2 separate regions of the Homo sapiens genome follow, and region 1 is linked to region 2. The links come from fine-mapping of genetic effects on plasma protein levels. Region 2 holds a variant in brackets. A gene starts in the other region. All regions are shown on their forward strands. Region 1 holds the start of PRSS53 (serine protease 53). Region 2 overlaps LOC107987435 (a long non-coding RNA gene).

The links. PIP is the chance, under the fine-mapping model, that this variant and not a neighbour inherited with it causes the effect. Protein levels are from antibody-based Olink assays in UK Biobank. Linkage for the fine-mapping came from a reference panel and not from the study's own genotypes, which makes the PIPs less certain.
Region 1: it holds the start of PRSS53, and the variant in region 2 is fine-mapped to the plasma level of the PRSS53 protein (UK Biobank, PIP above 0.99).

What each region holds. Positions count from the first base shown.
Region 1 is chr16:31,074,142-31,090,499 of GRCh38, forward strand. PRSS53 (serine protease 53) reads right to left here and starts at 14,802. Exons shown (of 11, transcript NM_001039503.3): 1 at 14,611-14,802; 2 at 13,665-13,685; 3 at 13,396-13,558; 4 at 12,492-12,757; 5 at 12,196-12,350; 6 at 11,823-12,042; 7 at 10,969-11,119; 8 at 10,639-10,883; 9 at 10,417-10,562; 10 at 9,978-10,194; 11 at 9,296-9,668. The coding sequence starts at 14,668. The coding sequence ends at 9,649. ZNF646 (zinc finger protein 646) reads left to right here and starts at 281. Exons shown (of 3, transcript NM_014699.4): 1 at 281-490; 2 at 2,105-7,560; 3 at 8,830-10,055. The coding sequence starts at 2,184. The coding sequence ends at 8,951. It overlaps ZNF668 (zinc finger protein 668), which reads right to left and starts at 99. Exons shown (of 3, transcript NM_024706.5): 1 at 1-99. RefSeq lists enhancers at 1-514, 20-159, 515-1,047, 14,479-14,979.
Region 2 is chr12:11,282,817-11,299,326 of GRCh38, forward strand. It overlaps LOC107987435 (a long non-coding RNA gene), which reads left to right. Exons shown (of 2, transcript XR_007063209.1): 2 at 1-2,819. Among named protein-coding and RNA genes, the nearest start is that of PRB4, 19 kb to the right of the region's middle. RefSeq lists enhancers at 7,415-7,916, 7,917-8,416, 15,058-15,653. The variant G/A (reference allele first, on the strand shown) is at 7,553.

The sequences.
Region 1 (16,358 bases), not on the chromosome of region 2:
AAAGTACTGTGGCCAGGGCTGTAGAATCTTTTTCTCCCTTTCTGCGCCTATTCAATATGCACCGGAACGATTCTAGCTGCTCTTGCCGGAAGTGTGGCTAGCTTAGCGTGCAAAGACGCCGCGTTGTGACCTACGTGGGCGGAGTCAGCCGTGCAGACCTAGAACTTAGCGCCGGAAGTGTGTCTGCGTAAAACTGCGGCTCGGAGGCGGGACAGGCAGTGCTCCCGAAGCGGAAGTTTCGCGGGGAAGCTTTTGCACCTAAGGACACTTCCTGTTTCCTAGTAACAATAGGAAGTGTCCGTAGAGCTGGGAGTAGACTCCTGGCTCATGCCAGCTGCGCCCTCTTTTCTCTACCTCCTTCCTCTTCCCCCCTTCTCCTTTCCCTCTTTCCCTTCCCTCCCACCTCCCGGGAACCCTGGCTGAGTGTGCGTGTGTGGGAGCGCGAGAGCCCCCCGACAGCCACCCCTTGGGGCGCGCGGCTGCAGTTAGGGTAAGGGTCCCAGTGCGCAGGCGCGCTCTTGTTCGCGGTCCCCAACTGACGCGCCCGCGGCGGGAAGGAGAGGGGGCCGCCGGTGCGAGGTAGGCGTCCTGAGAGGAAATTGGCAGACGAGATGAGTGAGGTCAGAGGACTTCATTGGTGGTTGACTAGGGGAGGGGACTTTTGATCAAAGGGGCTTTGTGAGGTGAGAATTCCGGGGGCAGGTTCAGTGAAGGGGTTTACGGTCGGAGACAGTTGTACTGGGGTCCCATGGGAAGAAGAGTCAGAGTTGGAGAAGGACAAGACGATGTAGGGGGCATGAGAGAGCAAGGGCTTTGGGATGAAGACCGCCTCAGTCAGGGGGTTTGCTGTTACGTGAACTAGAATAACAGGCATTGCCGTGTGTTCTGAGGATTGAGTAACACAATGAATATAGTTAGCACAGTGCCTGGCACATGGTAATATAATACTCTTCATGAGTTGCTGTCATCATCAGTATTAAGAGAGGAGGCAGAAGAAAAAAATGAGAAAGACTGGTGAGGGTAAGATCAGGAGGCATGGGAGAGAAAAGGTAGGCAATGAAGTGACATTACAACCTGGTATTGATGTTATTCCCAAGATGGAAGATAGTTTGAGTTCAAGGGAAGTAGATAAAAGAAGTCGCTAAGAGAGTCTTTTGGGGTTTTTTGTTTTTTTGAGATGGAGTCTCGCTCTGTCACCCAGGCTGGAGTGCTGTGGTGGGATCTCAGCTCACTGCAACCTCCACCTCCCAGGTTCAAGCAGTTCTTCAGCCTCAGCCTCCTGAGTAGCTAGAATTACAGGTGCCCACCACCACGCCCGGCTAATTTTTGTATTTTTAGTAGAGACAGGGTTTCACCATGTTGTCCAGGCTGGTCTTGAACTCCTGAACTCAGGTGATCCACCAGCCTCGGCCTCCCAAAGTGCTGGGATTACAGGCGTGAGCCACCACACCTGGCCCAGTTAAGAGAGTCTTAACTCTCTTAACTCTCTTGTCACAAGGAAAAGAGACCTTGTGACACTGAAATGACTCGGGGTGGTGGGGGAACAAGCCAGCCCTTTCCCTGAAGGAGGCCTCTAACCTCTCCTCTCAGGTCCTCAGCTATTAACTGGAGGAAACAGCTGCTTTTTCAGTGCTTCTCAGCTACTCTGTTTAGCTGAGAGATGAAGTAGGAAGATTTGGACTTCTCTTATTGAAAGGCCTAGAGAAGGTTTTGGTGTCCTTTTAAGATGTCACAGAAAATTTTTGTTTCAGGATTGTAGGGAGCAGATTCCTACTGTTCTTAAAGGACAGTAATGCCTTTTGAGTCTGGTCTGAAGAACATAACAGGTCTGTGATCAGAAGTAGGTTGCATCTCTCTCAACTTTAATTTCCTTAGCTATACCTGTAGGGATGACTTAAGCCTAGGGGAGCTCCTATATTTGGGAAGCTTGTGCACAGGGAAGCCTTAAATGATGGTGCCTGCAGATTGGATCTAGTAGAAATTAGGTCCTTGGGCATGGATGCTTGGGGAACCTCTCAGTGACCTCAGGTGAACTTGTTGCTCGTAGAGCCAAGAGGCGAAGTTAATTCAGGCCTTCCTTTTGACCACTGCCCCCTCTTCCTAGGCCTTGGCCCCTCCACCAGAGGAAGGTGCTGCCACGTGTCTGCTCCTTCTGAACCTCCAGGTTTCTGCTACGTTGCCCCATGGAGGACACACCCCCCTCACTCAGCTGCTCCGACTGTCAGCGCCACTTTCCCAGCCTCCCAGAGCTCTCTCGGCACCGAGAACTGCTCCATCCATCTCCCAACCAGGACAGTGAGGAGGCTGACAGCATCCCTCGGCCCTACCGTTGTCAGCAGTGTGGGCGGGGCTACCGTCACCCCGGGAGCCTGGTTAACCATCGTCGGACCCACGAGACTGGCCTTTTCCCCTGTACCACCTGTGGCAAGGACTTCTCCAATCCCATGGCTCTCAAGAGCCATATGAGGACACATGCTCCTGAGGGCCGCCGCAGGCACAGGCCCCCACGCCCCAAGGAAGCCACTCCACACCTCCAGGGTGAGACGGTGTCCACTGACTCCTGGGGCCAAAGGCTTGGCTCTAGTGAAGGCTGGGAAAACCAGACAAAACATACAGAAGAGACACCTGACTGTGAATCTGTACCTGACCCCAGGGCAGCTTCGGGTACGTGGGAAGATCTGCCCACCAGACAAAGAGAAGGCTTGGCAAGCCACCCAGGTCCTGAGGATGGTGCAGACGGCTGGGGACCCTCCACTAACTCTGCCAGAGCCCCTCCTCTCCCCATCCCAGCCAGCAGCCTTCTTAGCAACTTGGAACAGTATCTGGCTGAATCAGTAGTGAACTTCACAGGGGGCCAGGAGCCCACCCAGTCCCCTCCTGCTGAGGAGGAGCGGCGGTACAAATGTAGTCAGTGTGGCAAGACCTACAAGCACGCCGGGAGCCTCACCAACCACCGCCAGAGCCACACGCTGGGCATCTACCCCTGTGCCATCTGTTTCAAGGAGTTCTCTAACCTCATGGCTCTGAAGAACCACTCTCGACTGCATGCCCAGTATCGGCCTTACCACTGTCCCCACTGCCCCCGTGTCTTCCGGCTCCCCCGGGAGCTGCTGGAACACCAGCAGTCCCATGAGGGTGAAAGGCAGGAGCCACGCTGGGAGGAGAAAGGGATGCCCACCACCAATGGGCACACAGATGAGAGCAGCCAGGACCAGCTCCCCAGTGCACAGATGCTGAATGGCTCTGCGGAGCTCAGCACCTCTGGGGAGCTGGAGGACAGTGGCCTGGAGGAATACCGGCCTTTCCGCTGTGGGGACTGTGGCCGTACTTACCGCCATGCTGGGAGCCTCATCAACCATCGAAAGAGCCACCAGACAGGTGTCTACCCCTGCTCACTCTGTTCTAAGCAGCTGTTCAATGCGGCTGCCCTCAAAAACCATGTGCGGGCTCATCACAGGCCCAGGCAAGGAGTTGGGGAAAATGGGCAGCCATCAGTCCCACCAGCTCCCCTGCTGCTGGCTGAGACCACCCACAAAGAGGAAGAGGACCCCACCACCACCCTGGACCATCGGCCCTATAAGTGCAGTGAGTGTGGTCGTGCTTACCGCCACCGGGGGAGCCTGGTGAACCATCGCCACAGCCATCGGACTGGAGAGTACCAGTGCTCACTCTGTCCCCGCAAGTACCCCAATCTCATGGCCCTGCGCAACCACGTGCGGGTACATTGCAAGGCTGCTCGCCGAAGTGCAGACATCGGGGCTGAGGGTGCCCCCAGCCACCTCAAGGTAGAACTCCCGCCTGACCCAGTGGAGGCAGAGGCAGCCCCGCACACAGATCAGGACCATGTGTGCAAACATGAAGAAGAGGCCACGGACATCACCCCAGCAGCAGACAAGACAGCAGCACATATCTGTAGCATCTGTGGGCTGCTCTTTGAAGACGCTGAGAGCCTTGAACGTCATGGCCTGACTCATGGGGCAGGGGAAAAGGAAAATAGCAGAACAGAGACCACAATGTCACCTCCTAGGGCCTTTGCCTGCCGAGACTGTGGAAAGAGCTATCGCCACTCAGGCAGCCTTATCAACCACAGGCAGACCCACCAGACAGGAGACTTCAGTTGTGGGGCCTGTGCCAAGCACTTCCACACCATGGCTGCCATGAAGAACCACTTGCGCCGGCACAGTCGGCGGCGGAGCAGGCGGCATCGGAAGCGGGCTGGCGGTGCCAGCGGTGGGAGAGAAGCCAAACTCCTGGCAGCGGAGAGCTGGACCCGGGAGCTAGAAGACAATGAAGGCCTGGAGTCTCCCCAAGACCCTTCAGGGGAAAGTCCTCATGGGGCTGAAGGCAACCTGGAAAGTGATGGGGACTGTTTGCAGGCTGAATCTGAAGGGGACAAATGTGGGCTTGAGAGGGATGAGACCCATTTCCAGGGTGATAAAGAGAGCGGAGGCACTGGGGAAGGACTGGAAAGGAAGGATGCCAGTTTACTTGACAACTTGGACATCCCAGGTGAGGAAGGTGGTGGCACTCACTTCTGCGATAGCCTCACTGGGGTGGATGAAGACCAGAAGCCAGCCACTGGCCAACCCAACTCCTCTTCCCACTCTGCCAATGCTGTCACTGGCTGGCAGGCTGGGGCCGCTCACACATGCTCTGACTGTGGGCATTCTTTCCCCCATGCCACTGGCCTGCTGAGCCACAGGCCCTGCCACCCACCAGGCATCTATCAGTGCTCCCTCTGCCCGAAGGAGTTTGACTCTCTGCCTGCCCTCCGCAGCCACTTCCAGAACCATAGGCCTGGGGAGGCGACCTCAGCACAGCCTTTCCTCTGCTGCCTCTGTGGCATGATCTTCCCTGGGCGGGCTGGCTACAGGCTTCACCGGCGCCAGGCCCACAGCTCCTCTGGCATGACTGAGGGCTCAGAGGAGGAGGGGGAAGAGGAAGGAGTGGCAGAGGCAGCCCCTGCACGCAGTCCACCACTGCAGCTCTCGGAAGCAGAGCTGCTGAATCAGCTGCAGCGGGAGGTGGAAGCGCTGGACAGTGCAGGGTATGGGCACATCTGTGGCTGCTGTGGTCAGACCTACGATGACCTGGGGAGCCTGGAGCGTCACCACCAAAGTCAGAGTTCTGGGACTACTGCAGACAAGGCTCCCAGCCCCTTGGGAGTGGCAGGTGATGCCATGGAGATGGTCGTGGACAGTGTCTTGGAGGACATAGTGAATTCTGTCTCTGGAGAGGGTGGAGATGCCAAGTCTCAAGAGGGAGCAGGCACCCCCTTGGGAGACAGCCTCTGCATCCAGGGTGGGGAAAGTTTGTTGGAGGCTCAGCCCCGCCCCTTCCGCTGCAACCAGTGTGGCAAGACCTATCGCCATGGGGGCAGCCTGGTGAACCACCGCAAGATCCACCAGACTGGAGACTTTCTCTGCCCTGTCTGCTCCCGCTGCTACCCCAACCTGGCTGCCTACCGTAATCATCTGCGGAACCACCCTCGCTGCAAAGGCTCTGAGCCCCAGGTTGGGCCCATCCCAGAGGCAGCAGGTAGCAGTGAGCTGCAGGTTGGGCCCATCCCAGAAGGAGGCAGCAACAAGCCCCAGCACATGGCAGAGGAGGGGCCGGGGCAAGCAGAAGTCGAGAAGCTCCAGGAAGAACTTAAAGTGGAGCCCCTGGAGGAAGTGGCCAGGGTGAAAGAAGAGGTGTGGGAGGAGACCACTGTGAAGGGGGAGGAGATAGAGCCCAGGCTGGAGACTGCCGAGAAGGGCTGCCAGACTGAAGCCAGCTCTGAGCGGCCCTTCAGCTGCGAGGTGTGTGGCCGATCCTACAAGCACGCCGGCAGCCTCATCAACCACCGGCAGAGCCACCAGACCGGCCACTTTGGCTGTCAGGCCTGCTCCAAGGGCTTCTCAAACCTCATGTCCCTCAAGAACCACCGGCGCATCCATGCAGATCCCCGACGTTTCCGCTGCAGCGAGTGTGGGAAGGCCTTCCGCCTGCGGAAACAGCTGGCCAGCCACCAGCGGGTCCACATGGAACGGCGTGGGGGTGGGGGCACCCGAAAGGCGACTCGGGAAGATCGGCCCTTCCGCTGTGGGCAGTGCGGGCGGACCTATCGCCACGCCGGCAGCCTCCTGAACCACCGGCGCAGCCACGAGACGGGCCAGTACAGCTGCCCCACCTGCCCCAAGACCTACTCCAACCGCATGGCCCTGAAGGACCACCAGAGGCTGCACTCAGAGAATCGGCGGCGACGGGCTGGACGGTCCAGGCGCACAGCTGTGCGTTGCGCCCTCTGTGGCCGCAGCTTCCCTGGCCGGGGATCTTTGGAGCGGCACCTGCGGGAGCATGAGGAGACAGAAAGGGAGCCAGCCAATGGCCAGGGAGGCCTGGATGGCACAGCGGCCAGTGAGGCGAACCTGACTGGCAGCCAGGGACTAGAGACCCAATTGGGTGGTGCTGAGCCAGTACCCCACTTGGAGGATGGAGTCCCAAGGCCAGGGGAGCGCAGTCAGAGCCCCATCAGGGCAGCAAGCTCAGAAGCCCCAGAGCCACTGTCCTGGGGTGCAGGGAAGGCAGGTGGGTGGCCGGTAGGTGGGGGACTGGGGAATCATAGTGGAGGCTGGGTTCCTCAGTTCCTAACTAGGTCAGAGGAGCCAGAGGACAGTGTCCACAGGAGTCCTTGCCACGCTGGTGACTGCCAGCTCAATGGACCTACTCTGAGTCACATGGATAGCTGGGACAACAGAGACAACAGCTCTCAGCTGCAGCCAGGGAGCCACTCCTCTTGCAGCCAGTGTGGCAAGACTTACTGCCAGTCAGGCAGCCTCTTGAACCACAACACCAACAAGACAGACCGACACTATTGCCTGCTCTGCTCCAAGGAGTTCTTAAATCCTGTGGCCACAAAGAGCCACAGCCACAACCACATAGACGCCCAGACCTTTGCCTGTCCTGACTGTGGCAAAGCCTTTGAGTCCCACCAGGAACTGGCCAGCCACCTGCAGGCTCATGCCCGGGGCCACAGCCAGGTGCCAGCCCAGATGGAGGAGGCCAGAGATCCCAAAGCCGGGACTGGGGAGGACCAGGTGGTTCTCCCTGGTCAAGGGAAAGCCCAGGAGGCCCCATCAGAAACCCCCAGAGGCCCAGGAGAGAGTGTGGAGAGAGCCAGGGGAGGACAAGCGGTGACGTCCATGGCGGCTGAGGACAAGGAGCGGCCCTTCCGCTGCACCCAGTGCGGGCGCTCCTACCGCCATGCTGGCAGCCTGCTGAACCACCAGAAGGCCCACACCACAGGGTTGTACCCGTGCTCCCTCTGTCCCAAACTTCTCCCTAACCTGCTGTCTCTTAAGAACCACAGCAGGACCCACACGGACCCCAAGCGCCACTGCTGCAGCATCTGTGGCAAGGCCTTTCGGACAGCTGCCCGGCTGGAGGGCCACGGGCGGGTCCATGCACCCCGGGAGGGGCCTTTCACCTGCCCCCATTGTCCCCGCCACTTCCGCCGCCGAATCAGCTTCGTGCAGCACCAGCAGCAGCACCAGGAGGAGTGGACGGTGGCCGGCTCCGGTAGGGGGCATGAAGGGTCCCAGGAGGAGGTGGGCACACAGTGGAGGGGGAAGTCCAGCCCCAAAGTCGGTGGGGGAGCAAGGAGTGAGAGGAGAGAGCCCCGGGGATTCTAAGAGGTGGGTGGGGGCTTGGCTATGGGGTGAGAGAAGTAGCTTGAGGATGTGCTGAGCTGAGCACCCGCAAGTCAGGTATAACAAATAGCAGGGTGGGTTGGGCAGCACGTGGGGGCGTGGTCAGGCCGAGGCTGCTACCTGGGCTCCTCCATTACACTGTAGCCAGAATGGAATGGTCTTTCTGTTCAGGGGAAGGTCACTGGGTACCCCCTGGCTGCTGTGTCTGGAAACCCTCCTGAGTCAGCCAGTAAAGTAATGACTTCCAGAGAAAAAGAGGAAGCCATTGGTTTGGTCTAGGTTCCATTCTTTCCTGGAGCAGGCCGGGTGCCAGGGAACAAGGGATGGGGCATGGGCTCCACGGCTTCCCTGCTGACTTGGCCACGGAAACTGGTTCACTGGTTGGCACCCTACTCCCTGTCCCTCTTTCCCTGCGCCTTGTCTCTGCTGCTCCTCTCCTTGGAAACTAGACCTCTGGTCCTTCCCTGTCAGTGTTGCTCCCATCTCTTCTCTAACCTTTATTCAGCCCCTTTTCCCTCTGCTGCCAACGGCCTTTTTAGGATCCAACCAAACCACCCTTTCTACCTGCGCACCCTGCCACCCTCTGCACACCTTTAACTGGAGGACTGAGTCACAGATAATTGTTTCCTTGAAGTCCAGGCCCAGCTGCAGCAACAACAGTCATTAGCCCGTGTCACATCCCTGATCAGAGGGCATCTCCGTGGGGAATCGCCTCCACCCAGCACTGCTGGAAGCCGCAGCTGCCAGGGAGTGGGGCGGCCGGTTCCCTCAGCAGGACCTGGGCTGGCCTCTCCACCTCCCCTAGTAGAGGCGGACCCATTCCATCTAGTGGCCACCGAGGGTGGGTGGCCCTGAGATGGTGGGCCCTTGACAGGCCTTGTCAGAGCAGAGGGCAGGTGGGAGTCACCTGAAAGCTGAAGGAATGGCTTTAAGGATAGAAGATTTCTCATGACCTCAAGGGATATGAGGGAGGAGCCAGTTTGCCAGGGCTGGGAAAATAATTAGGAGGCCTAGAATCCCTGTTCTCATCTGGGCCTCCGGGGCCAGGGGCAGGGGAATGGCCTGCAGGGCTGGGAGGGGGTACACGCTGTGCGGGGTCTGCCCCTCAGTTGGTGACCTCCTCTCTCTCTCCCCCCAGGAGCCCCAGTGGCACCAGTGACGGGCAGAGGGGACTTGCCATTGCCCCCTCCACCCACCCCCACGACCCCACTCCTGGATCCTTCACCCCAGTGGCCTGCAGACCTCAGCTTCTCCCTCTGAACTTCAAGTCTCCAAAGATCAGAATCTGGGGGAGGGAGCGCGTGCAGGGAGGGGCTTGATCTCCACATTTTCTCAGGAGTAGTTCGGGCATCCCCATATCTTCTCCTCTCCCCTTGTGAAGAGGACCCAGATCTGGCTTCTTTCCCAAGGAGGGGGTGGGGTGTTCCTCGCGTCCCTGTCCTTGAAGGACCTCCTTCCCCCAGCCTCATCACCGTGCTCTTCTCAGCGCCACCCTCAGCAGCCAGATTGCAACACCAGGGAGAGGCGGATGCAGAGCCCCACCGGTGGGAAAGTTGCCTGTGGAAGGGAGCCTTTTGCTACAATTTGTAACTTATTTTCTAAAGTCTATTTTGTAACAATTTATTTAAGTTTAAAAAAAGGAAAACTGCTGCCCCCCAAAAAAAGAAATTTTCAAAACAACGTGGCTGGCGTGATTGTATCTGAAAGGGTAAAGGAGGAGGAAAGCTGAGACGCCTGCTTGGTAGCAGAGTTGGGTGTGGGAGTGTCCACAGACACCCCTGTCCTGCAGGGTGGGGAGTGGGCACCTGTGGCCCCAGGCAGGTTCCTTCCCACAGCTGCTGGGCTTCTGGGCCTGCCCTGGTGCCTGGAATCACACATGACAGGGTGGGGAGGACAGGGGCAGTAATGCCATTTGCCTGCCTGCATTCTCTTGTCCTGAGAATGGCCAGGTCCCCTGTCAGCAGCTGGTTGGTTGGCCTGTGGGGAAGGAAGGAGGGTGGAGTTGTCCTCATCCTCACGGCTTTGGTCCCTCCCTCCCTCCCCATTCCTCGAAGGAACAGGGTCTGTCTTGGCCGCCATGACAGATGAGAATACTGAGGCTCAAAGCGGTTGAGCAGCCTGCTCCAAGTCACACGATGACAAAGAACCAGAATCTGAATCAAATGGGTCTGCCTGTTGCTCCACCCTACCCAAGGCAGCTGGAGTGGGTTAGAACGGCACGTTCTCACTGGAGAGAGAAGGGTCCTGGAGAGGCAGGGTTTGGCAGGAGGCCCCGGGGCCACATACTTATGTTGGCCAGGCAGCTTCCAGGCTCAGCCTCGGGCTCTGGTTCCTCGGCGAAGTAGACCTGCCAGTCCAAACTGCTGACCCAGTCCTCATAGGCAGGGAGCGCGGTGAAGACCGCCGGCCTGGCGGGGCCTTGGCAAGCATCTCCGAAGCTGTGCAGCCCGGCCAGGAACCATGTGCCCCTCACCTCATGCACCAGTGGTGCCCCAGACAGGCCCTGTCAGGGGTCAGGTGACACTGGGTGACTTTTTATAGGCAGCTGTGCAGGACGGTAGAGCAGGCTAGGGAACCTCTGGCTGTTTGGGGGCTAATTGGCAAAAAGGCTTAGTTTCAGGTGGGAGGTGGGTCCAGAGGCCAAGCCTGGAAGGTCCGTTCTTGAGCTATTGGGTGAGGGGATGCCAGGGGCCTGTTAGGTAAGGTGTGGGGGCCTGGGGCTCACCTCACAGCTGGGCAGCTCACCCACAGCACTGGTACACACCATCCCCGGCAGAATAGGGCTGCCATCACCCCCAGGAGCTGCATGCAGCCGGCTGCAGGCCCTAGGCCCCAGGAGGGTCACGGGCACTGTCTGGAGGGAGCTGATGCCTGTGGAGCAAGGGAAAGCTGGCTGCCCCGGCCTGCAGGTTGGATGGACAGCAGCCCTGGCCCTGTGCCCACCTACCTGCTCCTGGGCGGGCCCGTCCCAGAACCCAGCCACGCTCCCCATCAGGCAGGTGGTGGTCAGGATAGGGCAGGCAGAGGGGCCGCAGGCTGGCTCCCAGTGTCACAGGCTGGGCCAGCAGCAGGAGGGCCATGTCGTAGCCCCCCTCAGGGTGGGTGTAGGCTCCATGCAGGATGAGCTGCTTCAGGCCCCACTCCTCCGGTCTGGTCCCCAGCCCTACGCTCCATTCCTCTGGGGCCTGGCGCCTGTGCAGAGGCAGTGTGGACGGCACCAGGTGACAGGGCTGCCGGCAGGGGCAGGGGGCACAGCAGAGAGGGATCCAAGACTCACCCAATGAAGCAGTGGGCAGCAGTTAGCACCGCCTCCTCTGACACCAGGGCTCCGCCACAGGCCAGCTGTCCCTGGTGCATCAGCCTGGCCTCCCAGGGCCATGGGGAGGGTGCTCCTGCCTGGGGACCTGCTGTCCTCAAGGATCCACAGGCTGAAACAGATAAGTGCCTCATCTGACTTCTTGCTAAGCACTTCCCACTTCCCATCAAATCCTCACAGTAGCTTTTGAAATTGAATTTTGTTCCCCTCATTACTGAAGGTAACCAAAGTTCCAGAGAGGTTAAGAGACTTCCTTGCTCTGTAACTACAGGCAAGTGGCAGACTTGCGATTCGCAAGCCAGGGCCTGAGCTTTTAGCCCTGTTGGTCTGATGGGACCCCTGTCCCAGCCTCGTGGGAATGCCCCTACTTGTCACTCCCCTGCTCCACCCGTCTGCACCCTCCAGGATGGGCCTGCCTCCCGTATTCCTGACTCATTAGTGCATCTCTTATCATCAAGACATAATATCCGTCCCAGGAATTACTTTGCATTCAATTTGCATGCCAGTCACTTAATGCCGGAATTCTGACTGGGAGCCCTACCCTGTGCAGGCTCGCTGGGTCCCTGCTGGAAGCCTGCCACTTCCCCAGAAACCCAAGTCAGGTCTCAGAGATTCCTCTTCTCACCTAAACTCCAAACCTGTAGAGTTCCAAAGTGCCTGTGCCTCTCAGCCCTAACAGGGCTGTTCCCATCCCAGGGGGTGAAAGAGCCCCCTAATTAGGCTCGGCGGTGTGGATGCCTATGCCAGTTCTCTAGTCCTAACTGAGGTTTGCTTCACAGTGGCTTCTGCCCACTCCCAGCATGCCCCACTCGTACCTACACAGCTGTCCTCATCACTCATCTCCGGGGTCTCTGGGCTCTGGGCCAGGAAAGCTGCCCCCTGAACTCGAGCCTGCAGCCAGGAACTGTGAGCAGCTGTGTTGGTCAGCAGCACAGGAGCGTCCTCCTGGGCACAGCTTGATGCAAAGCTGATGATGCCAGCCTGAACCCAGTGTCCGTCAGGCTCGAGGCACAGCACAGGGCCCCCGGAATCTCCCTGGAGCCAGGCAACAAAGCCAAGGACAGATGCCTGAGCCCAGCTATGGCAGACACCCTCTGATTGCAGGTCTTTCCCCCAGTCCTGTGAGTCCAACCCCCAGCCCAGGGTTAGGCCCCTCCCCTTCTGCTCCTTCTCTTCTCCCTATCAGACCTGACAGGGGCCCTGCACCCCAGGCTGGGGGCCCCCACATAGCATCCCAGGCCGGGCCGGGTTGGACAGGTGTCGCTGGTGCAGCTGGTTGTAGATACAGTTACATGTGGGGCGACTGATGAGACGCAGGCGCAGATTGCGTAGGGTCCCAGGAGCTGGTGAAAGAGACGGGGCTGGGGCTAGAGTCTGGGATCTGGGAAGCAAGGGAGACTGGAAGCCAGGACAGTTGGGAGCTGAGACTGTGACGCTGGGCAAGCAGAGTGCCTCTCCGAGCTTCAGTCTGGGCCAGCACTTACCATCACTGGTGTCCTGATCCCAGCCAGTGGCCCAGCAGGAGGCTCCAAAGGGGAAGCGATGGGCGGGCTGGGGCAGGCAGAGGGGTGTGTGGGTCGTGGGGTGGGCGAGCTGCAGCAGGGCCAGGTCTGAGCCCTGGCTGTAGTGGTTATAGGCCCTGGGCAACTGCAGGGCAGCCACCCCCACCTCTTCGGCCCCAGGGCTGAGTCCCTCACGCTGCAGAGAACCCAGGACCACTGACCAGGAATTCAGTTCTGTTGCTGCTGCCCTGGAAGGGGAAGGACAAGGTCCAGGCTGCTGAGTGCAAGGGTAGACAGTGACACCATGGGAGACCCCACAGGTAGGTGGAAGATAGCAGAGAGCACTCCACGGCTTTTTCTTTTTGAGGTAGGGTCTCGTCCTGTCGCCCAGGCTGCAGTGCAGTGGCATGACCATGACTCACTACAAGCCTTGACCTCCCAGGCTCAAGCGATCCTCCCACCTCAGCCTCGTGAGTAGCTGGGACTACAGGCGTGCACCACCATGCCTGGCTAATTTTACAGTTTTTGTAGAGACATGGTCTTGCTATGTTGCACAGGCTAGTCTTGAACTCTTGGGCTCAAGCGATCCTCCCTCCGTGGCCTCCCAAAGGGCTGGGATTACAAGCGTGAGCTACTGTGCCCGGCCTCAGTCTGTGACTTTAAGCGAGGTCATTCCCTTGCAACCTGAGTTTTCTGATTTGTAAATCTTCTACCATGAAAGGTGGTTGTTACAATTAACTTGACAATATGTACCCAGTACATGGCAGATTCTCAGTAAATGGTTCTTTATTATTACTCTAGAGGCAGGGACTAGCCTTGTGGGGCTTGAGACAAATTGTCCACTCCCCAGAGCCGGAGACCCTGCCTGACCCCAGCCATGACTTACTTTTCAAAGCAGTGGGCAGCAGTGAGGACCCAGGTGTCTGCCACCAGGGAGCCGCTGCAGATGTGGGCTCCTTGCCTCCTCACACTGGCCTGCCAGGGCCACTCGCCAGGGACTGTGTTGCCCTCCTGAGGCTTGGGGGGGCCGGGGCCACGCTGTCCACAGGCTGTGGAAAGGAGTTAGTCACACTGACAGCAGATACCTGTCCTGACCTCACCCCAGTCCCAACCCAGACCCAAGTAAGACCTAGGCCCCGTGTCCCCAGACCTTACCACGCTGAGCGGCTTGAAGACCTGGGAAGAGAGAGACACAGGTAAGATGCAGGGACTCCAGGCCTGCCTAGCTTTGGGGAGGAGAGGGGATGGGCTGGGGGGCGGGCCCAGGGTCCTTGCCTGTGACTCTGATTACCTTACCAGCCCCTCCCAGAATGAAAATATTTATATGAGGCCGAGACAGCTTTTATTGGAACCTATTCAGTGTGCACACTCAGTAATTAATTCTCCTTCAGCTGTGCTCAGCACTCTGGGGCTTGGGGTTCAGCTTGGGAGTAGGCCAGCCCTCCTCCAGGCTTCAGAACCCCCAACTCCTGCCCCCGCCACTGAGTCAGCCAGGCGGCCTGTGTGTGTAGAGAGCATTAGCTTAATTGTCCTCTTAGCAGCAGAGGCCTAAGAGGAAGGATTAGAGGCCTGCATCATTTCCAAGTGGGGAGGGCCCCAAGAAATGGAGACTTACCTCACCCTGGTCTAGAGACTCAGTCTTCCCCACCTTCCCAGAAACTGTCTGAGAGCCCGCCAGAGAGAGGGCCCCTGCCCACCGCCCCTCACAGGCACACAGGCACCCCATGAGACAGCTGAGCCAGGCTGCCCAGAGGATGGATGAAAAGAAAGGGAAACTGAGGCCAGAGGAGCCCAGAGTTTGCCTGACGTCATTGTGGAAGTCGAGGGGGAGGCAGGCACAGGACACACGCAGGCAGCACCTCACACACACACAAGACCACAGGCCCCGCCAACGCAAACTGCAGCTGGCCCGAGAAAATCTCATCCATGTTGACACAGGTGGCCACATATACCACCCCACAGAGTCCTACGGAGTTACATCCCCACTGGTGGACTGTCGCCCACAGGCGGTCCCCCCACCAAGAAGCAGGGACTGCTGGGGCAGAGATGGCCCCTGAGCCCCCACCAGGCCACACCCATACCCCAGCACATGGCGGCTTACCCTCCATGAGGACTGTGGCACCCGCGATGAGCAGCACTGGGCCCCAGCACCACTTCATGCTGCCCCGGGCCACTCTGCCACCTGTGCTCCACTCTGAGAGAGGCCACCTGGGTCTCCCTGGCTCCACCTCTGCTCCACCTCCAGTTGGCTAGGATTCAGCTGTCTGCTTGCCCTAGCCAGCAGTTCCTAGCTCTGGGGCTGTGGCTGTGTGACCCTAGGCTTGTCACCACCCCTCTCTGGGCCTTAGCCGTGGAGCCAAATTGTCTGGGTTTAAATCTGTTTCCTTACTACTTGAGTGGCCTGGGAGAGCTAACCTGCCTGTGCCTTGTCTGAGAAACAGTTGTTGAATGGAAAACGTCTCAATGACAGCCTGGCACAGGGCAAGCTCACTCCCAGCATGAAAGTGCCATCCTGGAACCATGGAGGGCACGTGGGCAGCTCCTCCCAGTCCCCACTTTTCATTTCCACTCCCCCACTTCTCTTCCAGCCAGGGCTAGGTGGGTTTCACATGCCTTCTCCCAGGTCTGCTCAGAGACAGTGTGTGCCAGGCTGAGTGGTGAGGAGCCAGCACCCACTGCTGCTTGCTCGCTGTGAGCCTTTGGCAAATCCCAGTATCTCCCTGGGCCTGCTGGCTTCCTGGGAAACAGGGTGACAGCGGTGCCCACCTTCCTCATAGGCGCAGAGGACTCGGTCAGGCGGGAAGAACACTTTGGCGCGTGCCTCCTCTTCCTCTTCCCACTCCTAACTCAGGCTGGCCCAGACCATTCAAGAACCCTGACCCCAAGACAGAGGCAGCTGTGGGTAAGGTTTAGCATATATTATAGATGCTGGCCGGGCATGGTGGCTCACGCCTGTAATCCCAGCACTTTGGGAGGCCAAAGCAGGCAGATCACCTGAGGTCGGGAGTGCGAGACCAGCCTGACCAACATAGAGAAACACTGTCTCTACTAAAAATACAAAATTAGCCAGGCCTGGTGGCGCATGCCTGTAATCCCAGCTACTCGGGAGGCTGAGGCAGGAGAATCACTTGAACCTGGGAGGTGGAGGTTGTGGTGAGCCGAAATTGTGCCATTGCACTCCAGCCTGGACAACAAGAGCGAAAGTCCGTCTCAAAAACAAACCAACAAAAAAAAAAGCATATAGATGCTGGAGCCAGATGGACCAGGTGGATTCAAATCCTGAGAGCCTCCTGCAGTAGCTGTGTGATCTCAGGCATACTAATTAGCCACTCTGTCCCTATCATCAAGATAGGGATAATAATAGTACCCACCTCATAAATCACTGTAAAGATTAAACGAGTTTAACACGTTAACACAAGTTTTTTTTTGTTTTTTGTTTTTTTTTGGAGACGGTCTTGCTCTGTTGCTCAGGCTGGAGTGCAGTGATCATGGCTCACTGCAGCCTCAACCTTCTGGGCTCAAGCAGTCTTCCCGCCAGCTTCCCGATTAGTTGGGACTATAGGTACATACACCACCATGCCTGGCTAATTTTTTTTTTTTTTTTTTTTTGTAGAGACAGGGGTCTCACTATTTTGCCCAGGCTGGTCTGGAACTCCTGGCCTCAAGTGATCCTCCTGCCTTGGCCTCCCAAAGTACAGGGATTACAGGTGTGAGCCACTGCACCCTGCCAACACAAGTTCTTAAACAGTGCTTGGCATGTAGGTAAGTGGTCAGGGCATAATAGGCAAAACAAAAACCTTCACAACCTGGCCCTGACCCTCCAAGGCTACCAATACTGGCTTGGAATGG
Region 2 (16,510 bases):
GATCTCCTGATCTCATGATCTGCCCGCCTCGGCCTCCCAAAGTGCTGGGATTACAGGCATGAGCCACCGTGTCCGGCCTGGTCTTGAACTTCTGGCCTCAAGGGATCCTCACACCTCACTCTTCCAAAGTCCTGCGATTATAGGCATCAGTTGCCACATTCAGCCTTTCTTCTAGGAAAAATTTTTAATCACTCCCAATTAAAATGCGTGGTCACAATTATATGCTTAAATAAGATGGTCTGGCACCCACATAAAAGCCTCAAGAGTATTGCATTGATCTATTTCTTAGAGCCTGTGATATCTGTCTCCCAGACTGTTCTTTCACACAGAAATTTTTTTCATTTTTGCAATATTCTGAAACTAATTTCTTCCCAGTCTCTTTCTAAAATGTATTTATTGAAATTTTGTGTTCTAAATCAATCTTGCCTGTGTTTACTTTTCATCTTATATCTGACTTCTTTTTAAATGAAATTTGGGAAAATTTTTAAATCTAATCTTCTAAGTAACCATCTATATTTCTTGTTACTCCTTTATTTTTCTTTTTGTTTTTAAAATTTGCATCAATATACTGTGTTTCCAAGGTCTTTTTACTGAGGTTCTGTTGGTAGCTCTCTTTTCATCTGCTGACTTTTCTGTTATATCAAGTAGTTCCTGCCCATCCTTTCATCCTTTTCATGGAAAGCGTAGGTGAGTCAGTATCAACAGCTGCCACTTATCATTTCAGGCTTTGAATAAGTCTCGTGCTGTCATTCAGTTTTTGTTCAGGGATAGTGATAACTTCGGGATGGCCATGTTAGAAGTAATGAGTAGGGGGATGTGACTGGAAATCCTAAAGACAAACTGCTTGATCAGTTGGATGAGGGGATCCTGTGTTGTACACATAAGAATCTGTTCCTGCCCTTCCAGAATGGTTTGAGAATAAAAGGGGATTTCAAAAAGTTTGTGGAAGAATATAATTACAATATGAAAGTAGACATTATGTAAACTTTATTTCTTAACGTAAGCTCCATCACATTCAAGAAGTTTAGCAAGTAATGATACAAGTAATTTAGCCTATCTATAAAAATTGACGATCCTGAAATTAGTTTCAGAATGCAGTCTTTTCACATCATTAACTGAAGAAAACAGAGTACACTTTAAAAATATTTCAATATTAGAAAAAAAATCTGAAGTCCAAAGATACTGCATCAGAACTGTAAGTTGGGTGCCTAGGGATTTTCTTTTTTTTTTTTTTCTTTTTTGTTTTATTTACATAGCTTGGGGAACAGGTGGTGTTTGGTTATGTGAATCAGTTCTGCAGTGGTGATTTGTGAGATTTTGGTGCACCCATCATCCGGGCAGTATACACTGCACCCAGTGTATAAGAGAGAGGTAAAAGTGACGTCTTTTACCCCTCTCCCCTTTCCCACTCTTTCCCCCTGAGTTCCCAAAGTCCATTGTGTCATTCTTATGCCTTCGCATTCTCATAGTTTAGCTCCGATTCATGAGTGAGAACATGCGATGTTGGCTTTTCCATTCCTAAGTTGCTTGACTTAGAATGATAACATCAACTTATGAGAGAGTATGGAGTAAGTTAGCCAAAACTTTAGCAGGGAAATGCCCGGAAAAGCTTTAGCAGAGAGTTCTTATCCATCACAACAATGCTCCTGCTCATTTCTCTCATGAAACAAGGGCAATTTTGCCAGACTTATGAGGGACATTCACTAGGCATCCAATCTCATCCATTTATCTGCTAAAGATTTGGCTAACTTTCTCCAAACTCCAAACTTATAAGCTGATGTCGTCATCTTTGACCCTCCAGAAAGTTAACAAACAAAATACCTCGAACATCCAAAAATACCGTTGACATGATGTTTGCTCTTGTCGCATTTATTTAGACTAGACCACTTCCACCTCTTGGTAGCCATTGCTTTGATTGTGTTTTTCCTTTAGGATGGCACTGGTAAAGCCATGTTTGATTTCCTGTTACAACTCTCCAAAGAAATGCTTTAGGATCTTTTCTTTTCTTTTCTTCTACTTCCTACTTCTTTAATTTTTCATTGAACCTTCTGTTCTTCTCTGTAGCTGACTCAGGTACAGCAGTTTTGGCCATCATCAAGTCGATAGTTTGCTCAACTTTAATTTTTCAGCCAGAAAAAAATTTATGTAATCTGAACCAATTGACAGTCTTCTTGTGCTAGCCCTTTTTTCTGCTGTTAACTGTGAGGTCTCTTCAATTGGAATAAAAGAAGATAAAATTTTTGCCCATAAGTTGCTGTGTATGGTCTGCTGCTGCAGAGTTCATCTTCACCATCATCTAGTCAATTCTTAAAAGGAGTTATCCATTTGTGAAGGGCTGATTTACTTGGGCACAAATATTTCATGATGCATCAGTGATTTCACCATCCCTCCGCCCAAGCTGCATCATAAACTTGATATTTGTTCTTGATACAATTTTAGTAGAATATTTGTTGATCTGATAGAAGTTGTTTTCAAACTGCTGTCTCAACCATGTTAGTGACTGAACTATATCCTTTTCAGACATGTTGTAACAAGTTAGTAAAAATGTATTTTGGTATGAAAAATGTTTGTATCCCTGCATAATTTTAAAAAATAATATATATTTTCCACAAACAGTTTGAAGATGCCTTATATTACTGGAAGTTGTCCTCATACAATGAAGTTTGTTGCTGATTACTCTGCCATTGGCTGGTGATCAGGCAGATTGTTGTTTTCCTCCCTCACCCCTTCTGGAATATTAGGGATGTTTGCTAAGAGGAAATATATTACCAGTTAGCAATTCTTCTTTGGCTATGCAATAATAAAACAATTGTAGCTTGGCTTTATGTGCTTTATGGGAGGCACAGAATAGTTGCCTGGCCTAGCAGGTACCCTAATGTTATTGGGATGAGTGTCACTACATTCCACACACACTAATTGGACAGGGAAACTGGAGATGAATGTTCCTGCTTAGTGACTTATGCTGGACCTTCTAAGTAGGAAAGGAAGATCAGAGGGCAGGCACAGAGGGAAGTGCCATGCAGACTTGCCTCGTTGCATAGGTTCCTGTAGAAGTGATAGTCCTGGTGAAAGAAAGGCTCCCCCTTGTCTTGGTGAATACAGGAAGACAGCAAGCATTGCCTTCAAATATCACTCAGCTCACGCCCTTTCCCTGACATTTTCCAATGTCAGCAATGAGTGAAAAAGATTAGTGTATTAGAGAAGAATAAAAATCAGCTATGAACTCTCCAGACACAAATAAAACAGAGGTGACAGAAGAGCTGAAAGAGACCCTGTCAGTGAGTGAGGATGGGGTCAAAGTGAGGAGCAGGACTGCAACAGGAGCTCAGGCACCTTTCTGTCAGTTGAAGCTCTCAACAATTTGCATCAATATACTGTGTTTCCAAGGTCTTTTGGGTTGGGAACCAACCCAAATGTCCATCAATGATAGACTGAATTAAGAACACGTGGCACATATACACCATGGAATACTGTGCAGTGATAAAAAACGATTAGTTCATGTCCTTTGTAGCGACATGGATGAAGCAGGAAACCATCATTCTGAGCAAACTATCACAAGGAAAGAAAACCAAACACCAAATGTTCTCACTCATAGGTGGGAATTGAACAATGAGAACACTTGGACACAGTGTGGGGAACATCACACACCAGGGCCTGTTGTGTGGTGGGGAGATGGGGGAGGGATAGCATTAGGAGAAATATCTAATGTAAATGATGAGTTAATGGGTGCAGCAAACCAACATGGCACAAGTATACATATGTAACAAACCTGCACATTGTGCAAATGTACCCTAGAACTTAAAGAATAATAAGAAAAAATAAAATAAAATAAAATTGACACCCTAACATCACAATTAAAAGAACTAGAGAAGCAAGAGCAAACAAATTCAAAAGCTAGCAGAAGACAAGAAATAACTAAGATCAGAGCAGAACTGAAGGAGATAGAGACATGAAAAACCCTTCAAAAAATCAATGAATCCAGTTGCTGGTTTTTTGAAAAGATTAACAAAATATATAGAGCACTAGCCAGACTAATAAAGAAGAAAAGAGAGAAGAATTAAATAGACACAATAAAAAATGATAAAGGGAATATTACCAGTGTCCCACTGATATACAAACTACCATCACAGAATACCATAAACACCTCTACACAAATAAACTAGAAAATCTAGAAGAAAAGGACAAATTCCTGGACACATTCACACTCCAGACACTAAGCCAGGAAGAAGTTGAATCGCTGAATAGACCAATAAAAAGTTCTGAAATTGAGGTAGTAATTAATAACCTACCAAGAAAAAAAGCCCAGGACCAGCTGGATTCACAGCCGAATTATACCAGAGGTACAAAGAGCTGCTGGTACCATTCCTTCTGAAAATATTCCATACAATAGAAAAAGAGGCACGCCTTCCTAACTCATTTTATGAGGCCAGCATCATCCTGACACCAAAACCTAGCAGAGACACAACAAAAAAAACAAAATTTTAGGCCAATATCCCTCATGAACATCAATGCGAAAATCCTCTATAAAATACTGGCTAACCGAATCCAGCAGCACATCAAAAACCTTATCCACCGTGATCAAGTCAGCTTCATCCCTGGGATGCAAGGCTGGTTGAACAAACAGAAATCAATAAATGTAATCCGTCAAGTAAACAGAACAAATGACAAAAAGCACATGATTATCTCAATAGATGCAGAAAAGGCCTCTGATGAAATTCAACACCCATTCATTCTAAACATAATAAACTAGGTATTGATGAAACATATCTCAAAATAATAAGACCTATTTATGAAAAACCCATAGCCAATATCATACAGAATGGGCAAAACTGGTAGCATTCCCTCTGAAAACCTGCACAAGACAAGAATGCCCTCTCTCACCACTCCTATTCAACATAGTATTGGAAGTTCTGGCCAGGGCAATTAGGAAAGAGAAAGAAATAAAGGTATTCAAATAGAAAGAGAGGAAGTCAAATTGTCTCTGTTTGCAGATGATATGATTGTATATTTAGAAAACACCATCATCTCAGCCCCAAAACTCCTTAAGCTAATAAGCAACTTCAGCAAAGTCTTAGGATACAAAATCAATGTACGAAAATCACAAGCATTCTTATACACCAATAACAGACAAACAGCCAAATCATGAGTGAACTCCCATTCACAATTGCTTCAAAGAGAATAAAATACCTAGGAATCCAACTTACAAGGGATGTGAAGGACCTCTACAAGGAGAACTACAAACCACTGCTCAAGGGAATCAGAGAGGACACAAACGAATGGAAAAACATTCCAGGCTCATGGATAGGAAGAATCAATATTGTGAAAATGGCCACAATGCTCAAAGTAATTTATAGATTCAACACTATTCCCATCAAACTACCATTGACTTTCTTCAGAGAATTAGAAAAAACTACTTTAAATTTCATATGGAACTAAAAAGAGCCCATATTGCCAAGACAATACTAAGCAAAAAGAACAAAGCTGGAGGCATCATGCAACCTGATTTCAAACTATACTACAAGGCTACAGTAACCAAAATGGCATGGTACTGGTACCAAAACAGATATATAGACCAATGGAACAGAACAGAGGCCTCAGAAATCACGCCACACATCTACAACCATCTGCTCTTTGACAAACCTGACAAAAACAAGCAATGGGGAATGGTTTCCCTATTTAATAAACGGTGTTTGGAAAACTGACTAGCCATATGCAGAAAACTGAAAATGTACCCCTTCCTTACACCTTACACAAAAATTAACTAATTGAAGAGGTCCTTCACATCCCTTGTAAGTTAGATTCCTAGGTAGTTTATTCTCTTTGAAGCAATTGTGAATGGGAGTTCATCATGATTTGGCTGTTTCTCTGTTGTTGGTATATAAGAATGCTTGTGATTTTTGCACATTGATTTTGTATCCTGAGACTTTGCTGAAGTTGCTTATCAGCTTAAGGAGATTTTGGGCTGAGACGATGGGGTTTTCTAGATATACAATAATGTCATCTGCAAACAGAGACAATTTGACTCCCTCTTTTCCTAATTGAATACACTTTCTTTCTTTCTCCTTTCTGATTGCCCTGGCCAGAACTTCCTCAACAAAATAAAAGAAGATACAAATGGAAGAAAACTCCATGCTCATGGATAGGAAGAATCAAAATCGTGAAAATGGCCATACTGCCCAAGGTAATTTACAGATTCAATGCCATCCCCATCAAGCTACCAATGACTTTCTTCACAGAATTGGAAAAAACTAATTTAAAGTTCATATGGAACCAAAAAAGAGCCTGCATTGCCAAGTCGATCCTAAGCCAAAAGAACAAAGCTAGAGGCATCAGGCTACCTGACTTCAAACTATACTACAAGGCTACAGTAACCAAAACAGCATGGTACTGGTACCAAACCAGAGATATAGACCAATGGGACAGAACAGAGCCCTCAGAAATAATACCACATGTCTACAACTATCTGATCTTTGACAAACCTGACAAAAACAAGAAATGGGGAAAGGATTCCCTATTTAACAAATGGTGCTGGGAAAACGGGCTAGCTATATGTAGAAAGCTGAAACTGGATCCCTTCCTTACACCTTTACACCTTATACAAAAATTAATTCAAGATGGATTAAAGACTTAAATGTTAAATCTAAAACCATAAAAACCCTAGAAGAAAACCTAGGCAATACCATCCAGGACATAGACATGGGCAAGGACTTCATGTCTAAAACACCAAAAGCAATGACAACAGAAGCAAAAATTGACAAATGGGATCTAATTAAACTAAAGAGATTCTGAGCAACAAAAGAAACTACCATCAGAGTGAGCAGATGCCACTCTGTAGCAACCTACAGAGGGGGAGAAAATTTTTGCAAGCTGCTCATCTGACAAAGGGCTAATATCCAGAATCTACAATGAACTCAGACAAATTTACAAGAAAAAAGCAAACAACCCCATCAACAAATGGGTGAAGGATATGAACAGACACTTCTCAAAAGAAGACATTTATGCAGCCAACAGACACAGGAAAAAATGCTCATCATCACTGGCCATCAGAGAAATGCAAATCAAAACCGCAATGAGATACTATCTCACACCAGTTAGAATGGCAATCATTAAAATGTCAGTAAAAGACAGGTGCTGGAGAGGAGGGGAGAAATAGGAACACTTTTACACTGTTGGTGAGAGTGTAAACTGGTTCAACCATTGTGGAAGACAGTGTGGTGATTCCTCAGGGATCTAGAGCTAGAAATACCATTTGACCCAGCCATCCCATTACTGGATATATACCCAAAGGATTATAAATCATGCTGCTATAAAGACACATGCATACGTATGTTTATTGCAGCACTATTCACAATAGCAAAGACCTGGAACCAACCCGAATGTCCAACAATGATAGACTGGATTAAGAAAATGTGGTGAGGCTGGAGCCAAGACGGCCAAATAGGAACAGCTCTGGTCTACAGCTCCCAGCATGAGCAACGCAGAAGATGGGTGATTTCTGCATTTCCATCTGAGGTACGTGGTTCATCTCACTAGGGAGTGCCAGACAGTGGGC[G/A]CAGGACAGTGGGTGCAGTGCACCGTGTGTGAGCTGAAGCAGGGCGAGGCATTGCCTCACTCAGGAAGCACAAGGGGTCAGGGAGTTCCCTTTCCTAGTCAAAGAAAGGGGTCACAGATGGCACCTGGAAAATCGGGTCACTCCCACCCCAATACTGCGCTTTTCCAACAGGATTAAAAAACGGTGCATCAGGAGATTATATCCTGCACCTGGCTCAGAGGGTTCTACGCCCACGGAGTCTCGATGATTGCTAGCACAGCAGTCTGAGATCAAACTGCAAAGCGGCAGAGAGGCTGGGGGAGGGGCGCCCGCCATTGCCCAGGCTTGCTTAGGTAAACAAAGCAGCCGGGAAGCTCGAACTGAGTGGAGCCCACCACAGCTCAAGGAGGCCTGCCTGCCTCTGTAGGTTCCACCTCTGGGGGCAGGGCACAGACAAAAAAAAAGACAGCAGTAACCTCTGCAGACTTAAATGTCCCTGTCTGACAGCTTTGAAGAGAGCAGTGGTTCTCCCAGCATGCAGCTGGAGATCTGAGAATGGGCAGACTGCCTCCTCAAGTGGGTCCCTGACCCCTGAACCCTGAGCAGCCTAAATGGGAGGCACCCCCTGGTAAGGGCAGACTGACACCTCACACAGCTGGGTACTCCTCTGAGACAAAACTTCCAGAGGAACGATCAGACAGCAGCATTCGCAGTTCACGAAACTCTGCTGTTCTGCAGCCACTGCAGCTGGTACCCAGGAAAACCAGGTCTGGAGTGGACCTCTAGCAAACTCCAACAGACCTGCAGCTGAGGGTCCTGTCTGTTAGAAGGAAAACTAACAAACAGAAAGGACATCCACACCAAAAACCCATCTGTACATCACCATCATCAAAGACCAAAACTAGATAAAACCACAAAGATGGGGAAAAAACAGAGCAGAAAAACTGGAAACTCTAAAAAGCAGAGTGCCTTTCCTCCTCCAAAGGAAAGCAGCTCCTCACCAGCAATAGAACAAAGCTGGACGCAGAATGACTTTGATGAGTTGAGAAAAAAAGGCTTCAGACGATCAAACTACTCCAAGCTACAGGAGGAAATTCAAACCAAAGGCAAAGAAGTTGAAAACTTTGAAAAAACTTTAGACGAATGTATAACTAGAATAACCAATACAAAGAAGTGCTTAAAGGAGCTGACGGAGCTGAAAGCCAAGGCTCAAGAACTACGTGAAGAATGCGGAAGCCTCAAGAGCTGATGCGATCAACTGGAAGAAAGGGTATCGTGATGGAAGATGAAATGAATGAAATGAAGCGAGAAGGGAACTTTAGAGAAAAAAGAATAAAAAGAAATGAACAAAGCCTCCAAGAAATATGGGACTATGTGAAAAGACCAAATCTACGTCTGATTGGTGTGCCTGAAAGTGACAGGGAGAATGGAACCAAGTTGGAAAACACTCTGCAGGATATTATCCAGGAGAACTTCCCCAATCTAGCAAGGCAGGCCAACATTCAGACTCAGGAAATACAGAGAATGCCACAAAGATACTCCTCGAGAAGAGCAACTCCAAGACACATAATTGTCAGATTCACCAAAGTTGAAATGAAGGAAAAAATGTTAAGGGCAGCCAGAGAGAAAGGTTGGGTTACCCACAAAGGGAAGCCCATCAGACTAACAGTGGATCTCCAGGCAGAAACTCTACAAGCCAGAAGAGAGTGGGGGCCAATATTCAACAATCTTAAAGAAAAGAATTTCAACCCAGAATTTCATATCCAGCCAAACTAAGCTTCATAAGTGAAACACAAATAAAATCCTCTAAAGACAAGCAAATGCTGATAGATTTTGTCACCACCAGGCCTGCCCTAAATGAGCTCCTGAAGGAAGCACTAAACATGGAAAGGAACAACCGGTACCAGCCACTGCAAAATCATGCCAAATTGTAAAGACCATCAAGGCTAGGAAGAAACTGCATCAACTAACAAGCAAAACAACCAGCTAACATCATAATGGCAGGATCAAATTCACACATAACAATATTAACTTTAAATATAAATGGACTAAATGCTCCAATTAAAAGACACAGACTGGCAAATTGGATAAAAAGTCAAGACCCATCAGTGTGCTGTATTCAGGAAACACATCTCACGTGCAGAGACACACATAGGCTCAAAATAAAAGGATGGAGGAAGATCTACCAAGCAAATGGAAAACAAAAAAAGGCAGGGATTGCAAACCTACTCTCTGATAAAACAGACTTTCAACCAACAAAGATGAAAAGAGACAAATAAGGCCATTACATAATGGTAAAGGGATCAATTCAACAAGAAGAGCTAACTATCCTGAATATATATGCACCCAATACAGGAGCACCCAGGTTCATAAAGCAAGTCCTGAGTGACCTACAAAGAGACTTAGACTCCCACACAATAATAATGGGAGACTTTAACACCCCACTGTCAACATTAGACAGATCAACAAGACAGAAAGTTAACAAGGCTACCCAGGAATTGAACTCAGCTCTGCACCAAGCGGACCTAATAGACATCTACAGAACTCTCCACCCCAAATCAACAGAATATACAGTTTTTTCAGCACCACACCACACCTATTCCAAAATTGACCACATAGTTGGAAGTAAAGCTCTCCTCAGCAAATGTAAAATATCAGAAATTATAACAAACTGTCTCTCAGACCACAGTGCAATCAAACGAGAACTCAGGATTAAGAAACTCACTCAAAACTGCTCAACTACATGGAAACTGAACAACCTGCTCCTGAATGACTACTGGGTACATAACGAAATGAAGGCAGAAATAAAGATGTTCTTTGAAACCACTGAGAACAAAGATACAACATACCAGAATCTCTGGGACACATTCAAAGCAGTGTGTAGAGGGAAATTTATAGCACTAAATGCCCACAAAAGAAAGCAGGAAAGATCTAAAATTGACACCCTAACATCACAATTAAAAGAACTAGAAAAGCAAGAGCAAACACATTCAAAAGCTAGCAGAAGGCAAGAAATAACTAAAATCAGAGCAGAACTGAAGGAAATAGAGACACAAAAACACTTCAAAAAATTAACGAATCCAATAGTTGGTTTTTTGAAAGGATCAACAAAATTGATAGACCGCTAGCAAGACTAATATAGAAGAAAACAGAGAAGAATCAAATAGACGCAATAAAAATGACAAAGGGGATATCACCACCGATCCCACAGAAATACAAACTACCATCAGAGAATACTACAAACACCTCTATGCAAATAAACTAGAAAATCTAGAAGAAATGGATAAATTCCTTGACACATACACCCTCCCAAGACTAAACCAGGAAGAAGTTGACTCTCTGAATAGACCAATAACTGGATCTGAAATTGTGGCAATAATCAATAGCTTACCAACCAAAAAGGTCCAGGACCAGGTGGATTCACAGCCGAATTCTACCAGAGGTACAAGGAGGAACTGGTACCATTCCTTCTGAAACTATTCTAATCAATAGAAAAAGAGGGACTCACTAACTCATTTTATGAGGCCAGCATCATCCTGATACCAAAGCCTGGCAGAGATGCAACCAAAAAAGAGAATTTTAGACCAATATCCTTGATGAACATTGATGCAACAATCCTCAATAAAATACTGGCAAACCAAATCCAGCAGCACATCAAAAAGCTTATCCACCATGATCAAGAGGGCTTCATCCCTGGGATACAAGGCTGGTTCAATATATGCAAATCAATAAATGTTATCCAGCATATGAACAGAACCAAAGACAAAAACCACATGATTATCTATGCAGAAAAGGCCTTTGACAAAATTCAACAACACTTCATGCTAAAAACTCGCAATAAATTAGGTATTGATGGGACATATCTCAAAATAATAAGAGCTATTTATGACAAACCCACAGCCAATATCATACTGAATGGGCAAAAACTGGAAGCATTCCCTTTGAAAACTGGCACAAGACAGGGATGCCCTCTCTCACCACTCCTATTCAACATAGTATTGGAAGTTCTGGCCAGGGCAACGAGGCAGGACAAGGAAATAAGGCATATTCAGTTAGGAAAAGAGGAAGTCAAATTGTCCCTGTTTGCAGATGACATGATTGTATATCTAGATAACCCCATTGTTTCAGCCCAAAATCTCCTTAAGCTGATAAGCAACTTCAGCAAAGTCTCAGGATACAAAATCAATGTACAAAAATCACAAGCATTCTTATACACAAATAACAGACAAACAAAGAGCCAAATCATGAGTGAACTCCCATTCGCAATTGCTTCAAAGAGAATAAAATACCTAGGAATCCAACTTACAAGGGATGTGAAGGACCTCTTCAAGGAGAACTACAAACCACTGCTCAAGGAAATAAAAGAGGATACAAACAAATGGAAGAACATTCCATGCTCATGGGTAGGAAGAATCAATATCATGAAAATGGCCATACTGCCCAAGGTAATTTCAATGCCATCCCCATCAAGCTACCAATGACTTCCTTCACAGAATTGGAAAAAACTACTTTAAAGTTCATATGGAACCAAAAAAGAGCCCTCATCGCCAAGTCAATCCTAAGCCAAAAGAACAAAGTTGGAGGCATCACGCAACCTGACTTCAAACTATACTACAAGGCTACAGTAACCAAAACAGCATGGTACTGGTACAAAAACAGAGATATAGACCAATGGAACAGAAAAGAGCCCTCAGAAATAATGCTGCATATCTACAACTATCTGATCTTTGACAAACCTGAGAAAAACAAGCAATGGGGAAAGGATTCCCTATTTAATAAATGGTGCTGGGAAAAGAGGCTAGCCATATGTAGAAAGCTGAAACTAGATCCCTTCCTTACACCTTATACAAAAATTAATTCAAGATGCATTAAAGACTTAAACATTAGACCTAAAACCACAAAAACCCTAGAAGAAAACCTAGGCATTACCATTCAGGACATAGGCATGGAGAAGGACTTCATGTCTAAAACACCAAAAGCAATGGCAACAAAAGCCAAAATTGACAAATGGGATCTAATTAAACTCAAGAGCTTCTGTACAGCAAAAGAAACTACCATCAGAGTGAACAGGCAACCTACAAAATGGGAGAAAATTTTCACAACCTACTCATCTGACAAAGGGCTAATATCCGGAATCTACAATAAACTCAAACAAATTTACAAGAAAAAAAACAAACAACCCCATCAAAAAGTGGGCGAAGGACATGAACAGACATTTCTCAAAAGAAGACATTTATGCAGCCAAAAAACACATGAAAAAATGCTCACCATCACTGGCCATCAGATAAATGCAAATCAAAACCACAATGAGATACCATCTCACACCAGTTAGAATGGCAATCATTAAAAAGTCCAGAAACAACAGGTGCTGGAGAGGATGTGGAGAAATAGGAACACTTTTACACTGTTGGTGGGACTGTAAACTAGTTCGACCCTTGTGGAAGTCAGTGTGGCGATTCCTCAGGGATCTAGAACTAGAAATACCATTTGACCCAGCCATCCCATTACAGGATATATACCCAAAGGACTATAAATCATGCTGCTATAAAGACACATGCACACGTATGTTTATTGCAGCACTATTCACAATAGCAAAGACTTGGAACCAAGCCAAATGTCCAACAACGATAGACTGGATTAAGAAAATGTGGCACATATACACCATGGAATACTATGCAGCCATAAAAAATGATGACTTCATTTCCTTTATAGGGACATGGATGAATCTGGAAACCATCATTCTCAGCAAACTATCGCAAGGACAAAAAACCAAACATCACATGTTCTCACTCATAGGTGGGAATTAAACAATGAGAACACTTGGACACAGGAAGGGGACATCACACACTGGCGTCTGTTGTTAGGGTGGGGGTAGGGGGGAGGGATAGCATTAGGAAATATATCTAATGTAAAAGACGAGTTAATGGATGCAGCACACCAACATGGCACATATATACATATGTGACAAACCTGCACATTGTGCACATGTACCCTAGAACTTAAAGTATAATAATTTAAGAAATTAACTCAAGATGGATTAAAGACTTAAATGTAAGACCAAATCCATAAAATCCCTGGAAGAATACCTAGACAATATCATTCAGGACATGGGCATGGGCAAAACTTTATGACTAAAACACCAAAAGCAATTGCAAGAAAAGCCAAAATTGACAAATGGAATCTAATTAAACTAAAGAGCTTCTGCACAGTAAAAGACACTATCATTAGAGTGAACAGGCAACCAACAGAATGGGAGAAAAATTTTGCAATCTATCCATCTGACGAAATCTAATATCCAGAATCTACAAGTAACTTAAACAAATTTACAAGAAAATAACAAACAACCATATCAAAAAGTGGGTGAAGGATATGAACAGACATATCTCAAAAAAAGACATTTATGTGTCCAACAAACATGAAAAAAAGCTCATCATCACTGATCATTACAGAAATGTAAATCAAAAACGCAATGAGATACCATCTCATGCCAGTTAGAATGGTGATTATTAAAAAGTCAGGAAACAGACTGGGCACAGTGGCTGATGCCTGTAATCCCAGCATTTTGGGAGGCCGAGGTGGGCAGATCACTTGAAGTCAGGAGTTTGAGACCAGCCTGACCCACATGGTGAAACCCTGTCTCTACTAAAAATACAACATTAGCTGGGCATGTTGGTGCATGAGTGTAATCCCAGCTACTCAGGAGACTGAGTATCACTGGAACCCGTGAGGCAGAGGTTGCAGTGAACCCAGATCCCACAATTGCACTCCAGCCTGGGCAACAAAGAACAAAACTCTGTCAAAAAAAAAATATATATATATACACAAAAATTAGCCAGTCATGGTAGTACGCACCTGTAATCCCAGCTACTCAGGAGGCCGAAGCAGGAGACTCACTTGAACCCAGGAGGCAGAGGTTGCAGTGAGCTGAGATCGGGCCACTGCACTCCAGTCTGGGTGACAGAGCCAGACTCTGTCTCCAAAACAAACAAACAAAAAAAAAGTCAGAAAACAACAGATGCTGGAGAGAATGTGGAGAAATAGGAACAGTCTTACACTGCTGGTGGGAGTGTAAATTAGTTCAACCATTGTGGAAGACTGTGTGGCAATTCCTCAAGGATCTAAAATCAGAAATATTATTTGACCCAGCAATCCCATTACTGGGTATATACCCAAATGATTATAAATCTCTCTACTATAAAGACACATGCACGCGTATATTTATTGCAGCACTATTTACAAGACCAAAGACTTGGAACCAGCGAAATGCCCATCAATGATAGACTGGATAAAAAAAATGTGGGTATTTGGCGGGGAGGAGCCAAGATGGCCGAATAGGAACAGCTCCGGTCTACAGCTCCCAGCGTGAGCGACACAGAAGACGGGTGATTTCTGCATTTCCATCTGAAGTACCGGGTTCATCTCACTAGGGAGTGCCAGACAGTGGGCGCAGGCCAGTGGGTGCGCGCACCGTGCGCGAGCCAAAGCAGGGCGAGGCATTGCCTCACCTGGGAAGCGCAAGGGGTCAGGGAGTTCCCTTTCTGAGTCAAAGAAAGGGGTGACGGACGCACCTGGAAAATCGGGTCACTCCCACCCGAATATTGCGCTTTTCAGACCAGCTTAAAAAACGGTGCACCACGAGACTATATCCCACACCTGGCTCGGAGGGTCCTACACCCACGGAATCTCACTGATTGCTAGCACAGCAGTCTGAGATCAAACTGCAAGGCGGCAGCGAGGCTGGGGGAGGGGCGCCCGCCATTGCCCAGGCTTGCTTAGGTAAACAAAGCAGCCGGGAAGCTCAAACTGGGTGGAGCCCACCACAGCTCAAGGAGGCCTGCCTGCCTCTGTAGGCTCCACCTCTGCGGGCAGGGCACAGACAAACAAAAAGACAGCAGTAACCTCTGCAGACTTAAATGTCCCTGTCTGACAGCTTTGAAGAGAGCAGTGGTTCTCCCAGCACGCAGCTGGAGATCTGAGAATGGGCAGACTGCCTCCTCAAGTGGGTCCCTGACCCCTGACCCCCGAGCAGCCTAACTGGGAGGCACCCCCCAGCAAGGGCACACTGACACCTCACACAGCAGGGTATTCCAACAGACCTGCAGCTGAGGGTCCTGTCTGTTAGAAGGAAAACTAACAAACAGAAAGGACATCCACACCAAAAACCCATCTGTACATCACCATCATCAAAGACCAAAAGTAGATAAAACCACAAAGATGGGGAAAAAACAGAACAGAAAAACTGGAAACTCTAAAATGTAGAGCGCCTCTCCTCCTCCAAAGGAAAGCAGTTCCTCACCAGCAACGGAAAAAAGCTGGATGGAGAATGATTTTGATGAGCTGAGAGAGGAAGGCTTCAGACGATCAAATTACTCTGAGCTACAGGAGGACATTCAAACCAAAGGCAAAGAAGTTGAAAACTTTGAAAAAAGTTTAGAAGAATGTATAACTAGAATAACCAATACAGAGAAGTGCTTAAAGGAGCTGATGGAGCTGAAAACCAAGGCTCGAGAACTACGTGAAGAATGCAGAAGCCTCAGGAGCCGATGCGATCAACTGTAAGAAAGGGTATCAGCAATGGAAGATGAAATGAATGAAATGAAGTGAGAAGGGAAGTTTAGAGAAAAAAGAATAAAAAGAAATGAGCAAAGCCTCCAAGAAATATGGGACTATGTGAAAAGACCAAATCTATGTCTGATTGGTGTACCTGAAAGTGACAGGGAGAATGGAACCAAGTTGGAAAACACTCTGCAGGATATTATCCAGGAGAACTTCCCCAATCTAGCAAGGCAGGCCAACGTTCAGATTGAGGAAATACAGAGAATGCCACAAAGATACTCCTCGAGAAGAGCAACTCCAAGACACATAATTGTCAGATTCACCAAAGTTGAAATGAAGGAAAAAATGTTAAGGGCAGCCAGAGAGAAAGGTCGGGTTACCCTCAAAGGGAAGCCCATCAGACTAACAGCGGATCTCTCGGCA